Linked DNA regions of Homo sapiens: region 2 is linked to region 1. The links come from fine-mapping of genetic effects on gene expression. A gene starts in region 1. The other region holds a variant in brackets. All regions are shown on one strand. Distances are from middle to middle.

Region 1 (5,518 bases):
TGTTTCTTGGGCTGGTCTTGAACTCCTGGACTCAGGCAATCCTCCCTTCTCAGCCTCCCAAAGTGCTGGGATTACAGGCGTGAGCCACTGTGCCCAGCAAGAAGGAGGTTTTTTCTTTTTTTTTTTTTGCAATGGAGTCTTGCTCTGTCACCCAGGCTGGAGTGCAGTGGCGCAATCTCAGCTCACTACAAACTCCATCTCCCGGGTTCACGCCATTCTCCTGCCTCAGCCTCCCGAGTAGCTGGGACTACAGGCACCCGCCACCACGCCTGGCTAATTTTTTGTGTTTTTAGTAGACACGGGGTTTCACCGTGTTAGCCAGGATGGTCTCGATCTCCTGACCTCGTGATCTGCCCGCCTCGGCCTCCCAAAGTGCTGGGATTACAGGCATGAGCCACCGCGCCCGGCCAGTTTTTTTTTGTTGTTTTTTTTTTACCCTGTCACTTGCAAATGCTATCATTTCATTTGAGAAATGTTTATCACCAAAGAAATATTAAGGACAAAATCTCACGATAGGGGATGATACTTCTGTTGTAAATTCAGTTTTACCAAAGATTCACTGCATCTTGTTTGCCACGTCTTGCTGAGGACGGCGAGCTGTCTCCACAAGTATTTGAGCATGAGCGCTCCAGCTCCACCTGGACTCCCTTCCTCCGTGGGGCTGGAGTCCTCCTCCCCTCTGCCTGGGTCCCTCTAGCACACCCTCCCCCAGTGTGTGTCCAGCAAGCCTGCCTTGTGCACTGGTCCATTTAGGGACAGCTCACATCATCAGGAAAGTCTTCTACTGGTTGAGGAGAAACATGCCTCTGGAATTCCCACCCCTTGGACCTAATTTGGCCCTATTGGCTCACACAGGACAAACCTCCCCTGTTCTTTCCCTTCCAGAGACCTGCAGCCATGACCTCGCCCTGTCAAAATATCTCTGCCCAGGCCGGGCGCGGTGGCTCACGCCTGTAATCCCAGCACTTAGGGAGGCCGAGGCAGGCGGATCACGAGGTCAGGAGATTGAGACCACCCTGGCTAACACGGTGAAACCGCATCTCTACTAAAAATACAAAAAAAATTAGCCAGGCATAGTGGCGGGTGCCTGTAGTCCCAGCTCCTCGGGAGGCTGAGGCAGGAGAATGGTGTGAACCCGGGAGGTGGAACTTGCAGTGAGCCGAGATCACGCCACTGCACTCCAGCCTGGGCAACAGAGCGAGACTCCATCTCAAAAAAAAAACAAACAAAAAACAAAACATCTCTGCCTGAAACAGCAGGGTCACTGGGATATGGGTAACCCCAACACTCCCCAGGCTGCCCCCTGCCCTCACACCATTGCTCCCCAAGCAGACACATACACAGGGCTCCATTCTGCCCTCAGGCGTGTCTCTTCCCCCCACCCCCCGGAGCTCCACATGGGCCCTCACCAGGCGGATGTCATCCTGCGGCCTCAGCAGCTGTACCATGAGGTGCAGGTGCTGCCTCTGCTCCTCCTGCTTCTGGGGACTCTGGGATCCTTGCCCGAAGTCTGTCTGGTCCCCGTGGAGCTCCTCCTCACTCGGGGCCTTCTCTGTTGGCTCAGAACTGGCCTCTGCTGCATCATCATTGTCCCCTCCATCCTGCAGTCCCAGGACAGCCCCACGGAGCACCGCAAAGCTCTGCCTGGCAGGGCAGTGGGCAACTGTCATGGCTCCTCATTCCCCTTAGGGTAGGGGCTCTCAAAGTCTAGCATGCATCACATTCACCTGCAGCCCTTGTCTACACGGATTCATGGGCCCCCACGCGGTCGATAGGTCTAGAGTGGAGGCCTGAGCATCTGCATTTCTAACCCCTCGGCCCCTTGGCAATATTGCTGAGAACCAGTCTTGGGGGCTTCCAAGCTCTCAGCCCCTCTACTCTAGCTCATCTGTGGGGAGAGGGGGCTGCTCCTTTTCCCCTCCCACCTGTTTAACTCAAGTGCTGCTGGGAACATGGTCGGGGACCCAGGAGTCCTCAGGCCCATCATGCCCTCCTGCCGTTCGGCCCGTGGCCACCACCTGAGCCAAAGCCCAGGGCAGTGGATGAGGAAGCCCCAGCTGACCAGGGGGAGGGTGAAGGCAAAGGCCGCCCTACCGCGAGCCCACCAGCCGGCCCCACCGGGAACGCTGCCCCACAAATTTGGCAGTGGGCTTCGCTGCGCGTCCTCCGGGGAGCTTTCTGTCCCTGCAGCTGGAGCCCAGGACGGCCGTGGCCAGGCCCGGGGCAGACGGAAGTGTCTGCGTGGGGGAGGTGGCGCTCACCTTCGCTGGAGTCGACTCCTTCGCTGGACCGCCTGGTCCTGCGGAGAGAGCAGCCCCAGGGCAGGGTGAGGGCGGGGAGGGCTGTCCCCTCCCCTCTCTCAGGAATTCTAGAGTTGGGGGAGGCCAGAAAAGGCGCCAGATGCCAATCGTCTTCCCACCCCAGTCCACGCCCCACCGGGAGGCCCCGTGGAGCCCCGGCCCAAGGCCAGGTCGGCTGGGTGGGCGCCGAGTGTGGCGGGGGGCGCGCTCAGATCGGGGCCTCCGCAGCCCGGGCGGCGCGCAGGGCTCTGGATTGTGCCCCGGCGCCAGTACCAGAGACCCTCGAGGCCCCCAGCGCCCTCCAGCCCGAGCCCCGGGGCCCCCTCCTCATGTCCCCGTTCGAGAGGAGCCCGCTGGCGGGCAGGACGCGCTCCCAAGCCGGGGCAGCAACTGCGTGGGCGGCACCACGGCCGGACCACACTCACCCAGGGCCCCACGGGCGTGGAGGCGCCGCTGCCCGGGGGCGAACGGCTCACTGTGACCAGGGCCATGGAGCCAGGCCGCGAGCACCTGGGCTGGCACCGGGCACGGCCCCTTCCCTCAACCCCGCGGACAGTCCTGGACCCGCAGGACCAGGAAGGACGGACGGCGCCACCCGGGCCTGGCACCTCCTCGGGGGCGGCCCTTAAAGGGCCAGACACTCGCCCAGCCGGGCCCGCGGAGCTTCTCAGGGCGGCCGGGCCCCGCCCCTCCGGTCTCCGCTGTTCGGCCCGCCCAGCCCCTGGGCACAGGTCAGGGGCGAGGCCGGGGGCGGGCGCAGGTGCGGAGCCCGGAGACCCGGAGGGCAAGAGCTGAAGGCCGGGAGTTTGGTCCCCCTCCCAGGAAGCGCCCGGCCCGGGCCGGCCCAGCGGGAGCACCTGAGCTGTTCTGGGCCTCCAGCGTCCTGTGCCCTGCAGAGGCGGGTCCTAGGGAGGCAGAGCTGAGGTGGGGAGGTGGGGGACAGGTCTAGAGAGGATCAGGCACGGCGCGCCCTCGGCCAAGGGCCCCCACCCCAAACATTTCTCCCTGCTGGTCGGCCTTCTCGTTCCCACTCCGCAGGAACCACTGGAAGACAGGCTTCCGGGGAAAACGGCCTGGGGTTTACAAATAACCCAGGAAGCCCATGAGGGGCTCTCAGGTCCACCTCGGAGGCGAGCAGGGCAGGGCTTCCAGCTACGCAGGCGGAAGTGACTTGCGCAAACCCACCCGCAGAGAACAAGCCGCAGTCAGGGCCAGGGCCTGGGCTTGGCTGCAGGGGTCGGCGTCGGGGCTCTTCCCAGCTGGAGGTGAATGGTGCCTGGGGACCCAGGCTTTTCCTCCCCAGCAGGCACGTGGGCCGGTTTCCAGAAGACTAGGCTGGGTGGCAGGACGAACCGGGTCCCCAGCAGGTGGGACAGGGCACAGGGGATCTGACTTTCACAGGACGCCTGCTTGGTAAGGACACGTGACTCTCGCCAGCTCCTTTCAGCCCTGAGGGGCGGAGGGTGGGGGGTGGTCTCCTCATTTTACAACTGAAGAAACTGAGGCTCAGATAGGCTAAGGGGACCATGACCAGGATTCAAGCCCAGGTCTGAGGCCGCCATCCACAGTGCCTCTCCACAGCGCCCCACCTTCAGGGTCCCCACCGCTCCAGCCCAGTGAGCAGAGCAGCCCTGCTGCGACAGTCTCTTTATTTCCATCTCAGTCTCCCCTGCCTGCTCATTCCTGGGGCTCCAGGCCCCAAGCTCAGCAGCAGAGAGTTTATAAATAAATAAATTACAAAAGCGGGCAGGGAGTGGCCTGGCCAGCCCTCCCGGGGCTATGGCTCAGTGCTCAGTGAGTGACAGCTGCAGGATCCGCTGTAAGTCCTCCTCCTCCTGCTGCCCGCGCCGCTCCCGCTCCTCCTGCTCCCGTGAAGACAACTCCAGGGCCAGGCGCAGCTGCTCTTCAAAGCTGGGTGGACCGGGGGCTGGGGGTGTCCTGGGAGGGGATCCTGGGCCCCTGGGCTCTGTGGACAGCTGCAGGCTTTCCTGGAGGGCCCTTCCAGGCAGGGCAGGGGAGGGAAGAACAGGCCAGTGAGCGCCAAGGCTGGGGCAGAAGCCGAGGGGCTGGGGACCGGCTTTGGAGGACAAAGGCAAAGACAGGGTGGCAAGCAGAGGAGACAAGGCAGGGCCCTGCTTCCCCACCCCTCACACCACCTTTGGTGGCAGATAGCGCTGCTGACAGAGGGTGGCCTTGCAGAGGGCCTGGGGTCCTAGCACCTTCCTGCTATCCCCCTCCCCGCCAAGCCAGGGCTGGGGGGACAGGGACCCAGCCAGCCCCATGAGGGGCTCACCGCTCCAGCTGAAGCTGTTCCTCATAAACCGTGGCCTGGGGAGGAGGGCGGGCACCGGGCCGGGTGTTGGTCAGGGCTTCCCAGACGGTCACCTGCAGCCACCAGAGCCCACAGCTGTCACTTCTGCCGTGTGGCTGCAGAGGCCAGAGCCCACCCCCTGGGCAAGTCCCACCTGCTCCGCCTCAGTGCCCGCTTCAAGCAGGCTCTGCTGGATGGCGAACTGCAGGAGGTCATCGTCCTCGTCCCGGAGGGGCTCGTTGCGCTCCATGCCCAGCACGCTGTACCCGTTGGGCACTTCAAACACGGTGGGGTCCACCTCGCACGGGAAAGGGTTCCCTAGGCAGGTGGCAGAGGGGCCACGCTCAACCCGCGGGGCTTGGTGACCAGAAAGCTGTGCAGGCTCCCTCTTCCTCCCGTTGGGGTACCTGATGCGGCAACAGCAGAGCTGGGGGCCGGCACCCACACGGAGCTCAGGGGCTCATCACAGCCACACAGGTTGCTGAAGGTGATGCGGGCATTGAGCACGTGGAAAAGGGGAATCTCTGTGAGAAGACAGCCACGCCTGAGCCCTGGCGGAGAGCCACCTGTGCCTCCGGCCCCTGCAGCTCTCCAGGGACTGCGCTGAGGGAGGGTGCCATGCCTGAGGTCCTCCCGCTGCCTGTGCCCAGCCTCTCACCAATTTTGACGGGGAAGCCAGGTGGAAGGCGCAGAGTGATGAAGTCGCGCAGCTTGGCAAAGTGAGCGTTGCTGATGGCCATTAGGTCGATGATGGGGGTCACCTGGTCACCCAGGGAGAGCGGGTGCTCTTCACTCAGCCACAGTGTTGCCTTGAACCTGCCCAGCCGACCACAGGACATGGGTGAGGCACGGCTGGTGGCCCTTCCATTGAGGACTGCCCTCTGGTTCGTGGGCAGCTGCCTTTACC
Region 2 (5,000 bases), 89 kb after region 1:
AACCTCCACCTTGTGGGTTCAAGCGATTCTCCTGCCTCAGCCTCCCGAGTAGCTGGGATTATAGGCATGTACCACCACACCCAGCTAATTTTGTATTTTTAGTAGAGATGCACTTTCTCCATGTTGGTCAGGCTGGTCTTGAACTCCTGACCTCAGCTGATCCGCCCGCCTTGGCCTCCCAAAGTGCTGGGATTACAGGCGTGAGCCACCATGCCTGGCCAAGACCTCATGTTTTAAACAAGGCATTATCTATTCTCATTCTAGTTCCTACTTTTCTCTTACAAATGCATTCACTGCAAGTTAGAGAAAAAAGAGTAACAAGAGTATAATACTATAAACCTCGGGTATTAATTCTAGATTTCCATTCTCATATAGCATTCAGAAGCATTTTCACAAGCTGGAATATAACTGAATGAATAAAGATAATCCTTCAAAACCTGTTTACATCCTCAAAAAGGACTTAAAGGCTTCCTTTGGCCATATTTCAGACCAATGGCTACATAGAGGGAAAGTTGGTTTAGATCTTAATTTGCTGATTTCACAGTGAATCTATCCAAAATTCGTGTTCCCTTCCACTATTTATTATACTTCCAAGTACAGAAATTATCTTGTCCTTCTAAAATCACTTCTTTGGCTTCATTTGGAGAACTCTGATTCAGGAATCTAGAAACAGGACTATTGAGATTTACTAAGTGCTGTGCCAATGGTGTAATGACAGTGAACTAGATGAATACTAATTTCTACTGAACACTAGCCAAGAAGGTGAACTTAATCTATAATTCTTTCCAGATACGAATGGGGACAATTCCCTAACAGATTCATTTCCAGGGTATATTAAGTATACATGAACTGAAGCAAAGTCATACAACCAACTTCAGATTCCAACCCCTATCACAACTATGACCATACCTTTCCCCCTTGATGGATGTGATACCAAACAGAGGTACCACCAAAGTCCACATGGAAGTCAGTATAGCAGCCTCGAACACTCATTAGACAGTACCTGACCCAAAAAAAGCAGCAGCATTAGTGTACTGATGGAAAAAAGTACATCTGCCCCACCAAAATGCCATACTCTCCTCTTATATACTCCCTTTATCTTCCACTTAATCTTAAGTTCCAGAAGGAGAAAAAGCAATGCATTTTCAAGTCATCACATTATCAGAAAAAGGTTTTTTTTTTTTCTACCGTATTGACTAAAATGTAAGTTTTTTTTCCTTTAACTGTGTGGTTGTGTGCTATGGTATGCTCACATACACTCTTCCTTGTGGAACTGTAAAGTCTCATCTTTAAATAATTCATCTTTTTAATCATTCAAGACACAGAGCAAAGCTCGTAAGGGAGAAGCCAATCCTTGCTATTGCTTTGGTCTCCCACAGCACACGGAGGAAGATGCAGGGCGCATCACTTACTTCTGCACTTTAGGGTACTGCATCTCCAAGATGGCATTTGTTGATTCAGTCTGGCTTTCCTTCAAGTGCCTTGGCCACATGTTGTCTACCCAGTCAATGAAATCCACCTTTAAATAGAAGGAGGAAACACTTGGGCTCCAAGGGAAAGGTTGGGGTCAAAGATAATTTTAAAGTCAAGAAAAGCAGAATTTCTTAAAATACATAACAAAAAACTATAATTTAATTATAAGCAAATTAAAAAAATCTGTTGGCGAATCTTAGGATTACTAGGCAACCATCCTAGAAATAATTGTTATATGAGAATAAAGATTAATCATTCCATCAAATGATAATAGTAAAGACAGCACTAGTCAAAATGGAATCATTAATTATGCAATAGTGTATAACTATGAACTCTCTTCTATGTCAATACTTATATAATTTGTTTTATTTTTTAATCCAATAAAAGGTGTTGTCTGGAAGGTATCTATAAACTCAGCAAAATATATACCATTGTTAGAACAGTTAAGATGCCAAAAGTTAGGCCAAAAAAAAGAAAAAAATCCAGTATAGATTTATAGCCTTGCATTGACAATGTGCTATAGAAACTACCAGCTTAGGAATAAGAAGCTCCAGGTCTATCATGTCTTTTCAAGACTATATAAGGCCCTCAAACTCATCTATAAAACTAAGATAGACCAGGCACAGTGGCTCACACCTGCAATCCCAGAGCTTTGGAAGGCCAAGGTGGGAAGATCACTTGAACCCAGGAGTTTAAGACCAGCCTGGGCAACACAGTGAGAACCCATCTCTTCAAAATAAAAAAATAGTTGGGATCAGTGGCTCACACCTGTAATCCCCAACACTTTGGGAGGCCAAGGCAGGCGGATCACCTGAGGTCGGAAGTTCAAGACCAGCCTGACCAACATGGAGAAATCCCGTCTCTACTAAAAATACAAAATTAGGCCCAGTGCAGTGGCTCACGCCTGTAATCCCAGCACTTTGGGAGGCCGAGGCAGGTGGATCACGAGGTCAGGAGATCGAGACCATCTTGGCTAACATGGTGAAACCCCATCTCTACTAAAAATACAAAAAATTAGCCAGGCGTGGTGGCGGGCGCCCGTAGTCCCAGCTACTCGGGAGGCTGAGGCAGGAGAATGGCATGAACCCGGGAGGCGGAGCTTGCAGTGAGCCGAGATTGCGCCACTGCACTCCAGCCTGGGTAACAGAGCAAGACTCCGTCTCAAAAAAAAAAAAAAA[T/AAAAAAAAT]TAGCTGCGCATGGTGGCGCATGCCTGTAATCCCAGCTACTTGGGAGGCTGAGGCAGGAGAATCGCTTGAACCCAGGAGGTGGAGGTTCTGGTGAGCCGAGATGGTGCCACTGCACTCCAGCCTGGGAAACAAGAGCGAAACGCCGTCTCAAAAAATAAATAAAATAAAATAAAAAAAACAGCCAGGCGTTGTGGCATGTGCCTATAGTCCTAGCTACTTGTGAGGCTAAGATGGGAGGTTTGCTTAAACCCAGGAGGTTGAGGCTGCAGTAAGCTACGATCACCACTGCACTCCAGCTTGGGCAACAGGGCAAGACTGTCTCAATAAAAAACCCAAAAACACAAAAAAACTAAGATAACTACTTCAAAGATACGTTGTAAGGATTAAATGTAAACACTTTTAAAATCTGAAATAATGTGAGAATACAGAAATCTTTTTTTTTTTTTTTTTTGAGACGGTCTGCTCTGTCACCCAGGCTATAATGTTGTGGTGCGATCTCAGCTCACTGCAACCTCCGCCTCCCAGGTTCAAGCAATTCTCCTGCCTCAGCCTCTTGAGTAGCTGGGATTACAGGCACCCGCCACCGCACCTAACTAATTTTTGTATTTTTTAGTAGAGACAGGGTTTCACCATCTTGGCCAGGCTGGTCTCGAACTTCTGATCTCAGGCAATCCACCAGCCTCAGCCCCACAAAGTGCTGGGATTACAGCATGAGCTACCATGCCCGGCCAGGAATCTTTTAAATAATACTGGCTGAAAAAAAAGAGAAGTGAAAGCAATACGCAACATTTTACACTAAATTATAACATTTCCTGTGCCTTCAAGTGTCTACACTCAACCAATGAACTCCAGGTAGGTAAAACTCGAGAGCCAAACCACCATGAATTCAGCACAGTGCTGATGTGGTAAATATCTAACTTATGGTTATAAAAAACATGTATCTGGTAAGCTTTGTAACAACATCTACGTATTTGATCACTTACTTCCCTTATAATGTGAATGGAGACAAATGCATAAAGTTGTGCATGATATGAAGCAGTTGTCTAGAGGATACCCAGATGTTAACTGTGGGAGAGTGTTTAGAAAGCATCACCACTGACATGGAAGAAACAAACAAGATGAGGAGCAACGGTTAAGGTTAACCTGCTGTTCCATTTCAAAGAATTTCTGCTCAGGGAGCCAACAATTTTAACCAAGCATCCGCCGGTCCCAGAACATTGAATAAGCCCTGGATGCCTTTCTTTCCTTCAAATAAAATTTACTGTTTCTTAATGTAGTAGCCACCATCTCCCATCCCCGTGTGTTGTCCATGGGAATGCCTTTAACAGAATAATGAATAAAGTACTTGCTTAATACGCTGTAAGCTCCCATGTCTGAATAGGGAGAGGAACGGTTCAGAACATATGAGTATTTTTTTTTTTTTTACCACGCATTCATTCACAGAAAGCAGAATTTCTTAATTGCAGCAAGAAAGTCAGTCATTTTTGCCTGCCTTTCTTTGGTATTATTAGGTATCTTCAGACTACAGAGAGAATTTGTGGTAACATGTTCGTGCTTTTCTTCTTAGGTTAATCTTTAGCCTTGGGATAGATCCTTTGCTAAATACTCTGATCCCAGTTATAATCTGTTCTGCAACAAAACTAGGGCCAAACTGGTAAGAAGTCCAATATCATGAACCTAGTCTATTCATAAACAACTCATAGCCTTCCATGAACTTATTTCCCCATCACCAAACAAATGTGTATTATTTGTGCCATTTTAAAATCTACCTCTCAGTTATTGCTGGAATGGCAGCACTAAATAATCTCTTCTCACCATAGAACTCTACTTTATGCTAGCTCCTATAACAGGCATGTAAAAGTTGCCCTTCTTACCTCCCGGAACCTACTTTTACAAATGCTATTCCTTCTGCCCGTAATTCTGGTCTCCCTCTCCTTGCTTCATTATTTCTTTTATGTCAACATTAGGCACCACTTCCTCCAAAGAGCTTCCCCTAATTCTCCTATAGTTTCTAAATTAGGTCATCCTTCCAAAATGCTTCCACAATATCCTGCTTTATTCAATTTTTTTAATTTTAAAAGACTGGGTCTTGCCACATTGCCTAGGCTGCCTCAAACTCCTGGGCTCAAGCAATTCTCCCACCACAGCCTCCCAGGTAGCTGGGACTAAAGGCATGTGCTACTTTGCCTGGCTGTTTATTCACTTTTGAAGCACTGCTCATACTATAGTTTATATAAATGCATATTTTCTTGTCTTTCTTTGAGTCTCTAACAAGAATGATATCATTTTCCACTGTATCTCTAGTACCTAGACAGTGCTTAGCATGTGGTAGGCATCTGATAAATGAA

Direction of the effects. Positions count from the first base shown, and alleles are read on the strand shown. Sizes are in standard deviations (SD) of each study's normalised expression.
In carriers of allele AAAAAAAAT in region 2, the expression in monocytes of the gene that starts at base 2,887 in region 1 tends to be lower than with T alone (large effect, 0.79 SD a copy in Quach 2016).

The links. PIP is the estimated chance that this variant, and not a neighbour inherited with it, causes the effect. A credible set is the group of variants that fine-mapping cannot tell apart.
Region 2: its variant is the best candidate, but not a certain one, in a credible set for the expression of SSH3 in monocytes (Quach 2016, PIP 0.55).

The regions. Positions count from the first base shown.
Region 1 is chr11:67,300,899-67,306,416 of GRCh38, reverse strand. SSH3 (slingshot protein phosphatase 3) reads right to left here and starts at 2,887. Exons shown (of 14, transcript NM_017857.4): 1 at 2,726-2,887; 2 at 2,262-2,299; 3 at 1,410-1,644. The coding sequence starts at 2,791. ANKRD13D (ankyrin repeat domain 13D) reads right to left here. Exons shown (of 15, transcript NM_207354.3): 11 at 5,270-5,427; 12 at 5,019-5,135; 13 at 4,766-4,929; 14 at 4,594-4,685; 15 at 3,933-4,298. The coding sequence ends at 4,085. RefSeq lists enhancers at 2,700-3,219, 3,220-3,737.
Region 2 is chr11:67,211,859-67,216,858 of GRCh38, reverse strand. It overlaps KDM2A (lysine demethylase 2A), which reads right to left. Exons shown (of 21, transcript NM_012308.3): 7 at 1,413-1,519; 8 at 910-1,003. Among named protein-coding and RNA genes, the nearest start is that of GRK2, 52 kb to the left of the region's middle. The variant T/AAAAAAAAT (reference allele first, on the strand shown) is at 2,652.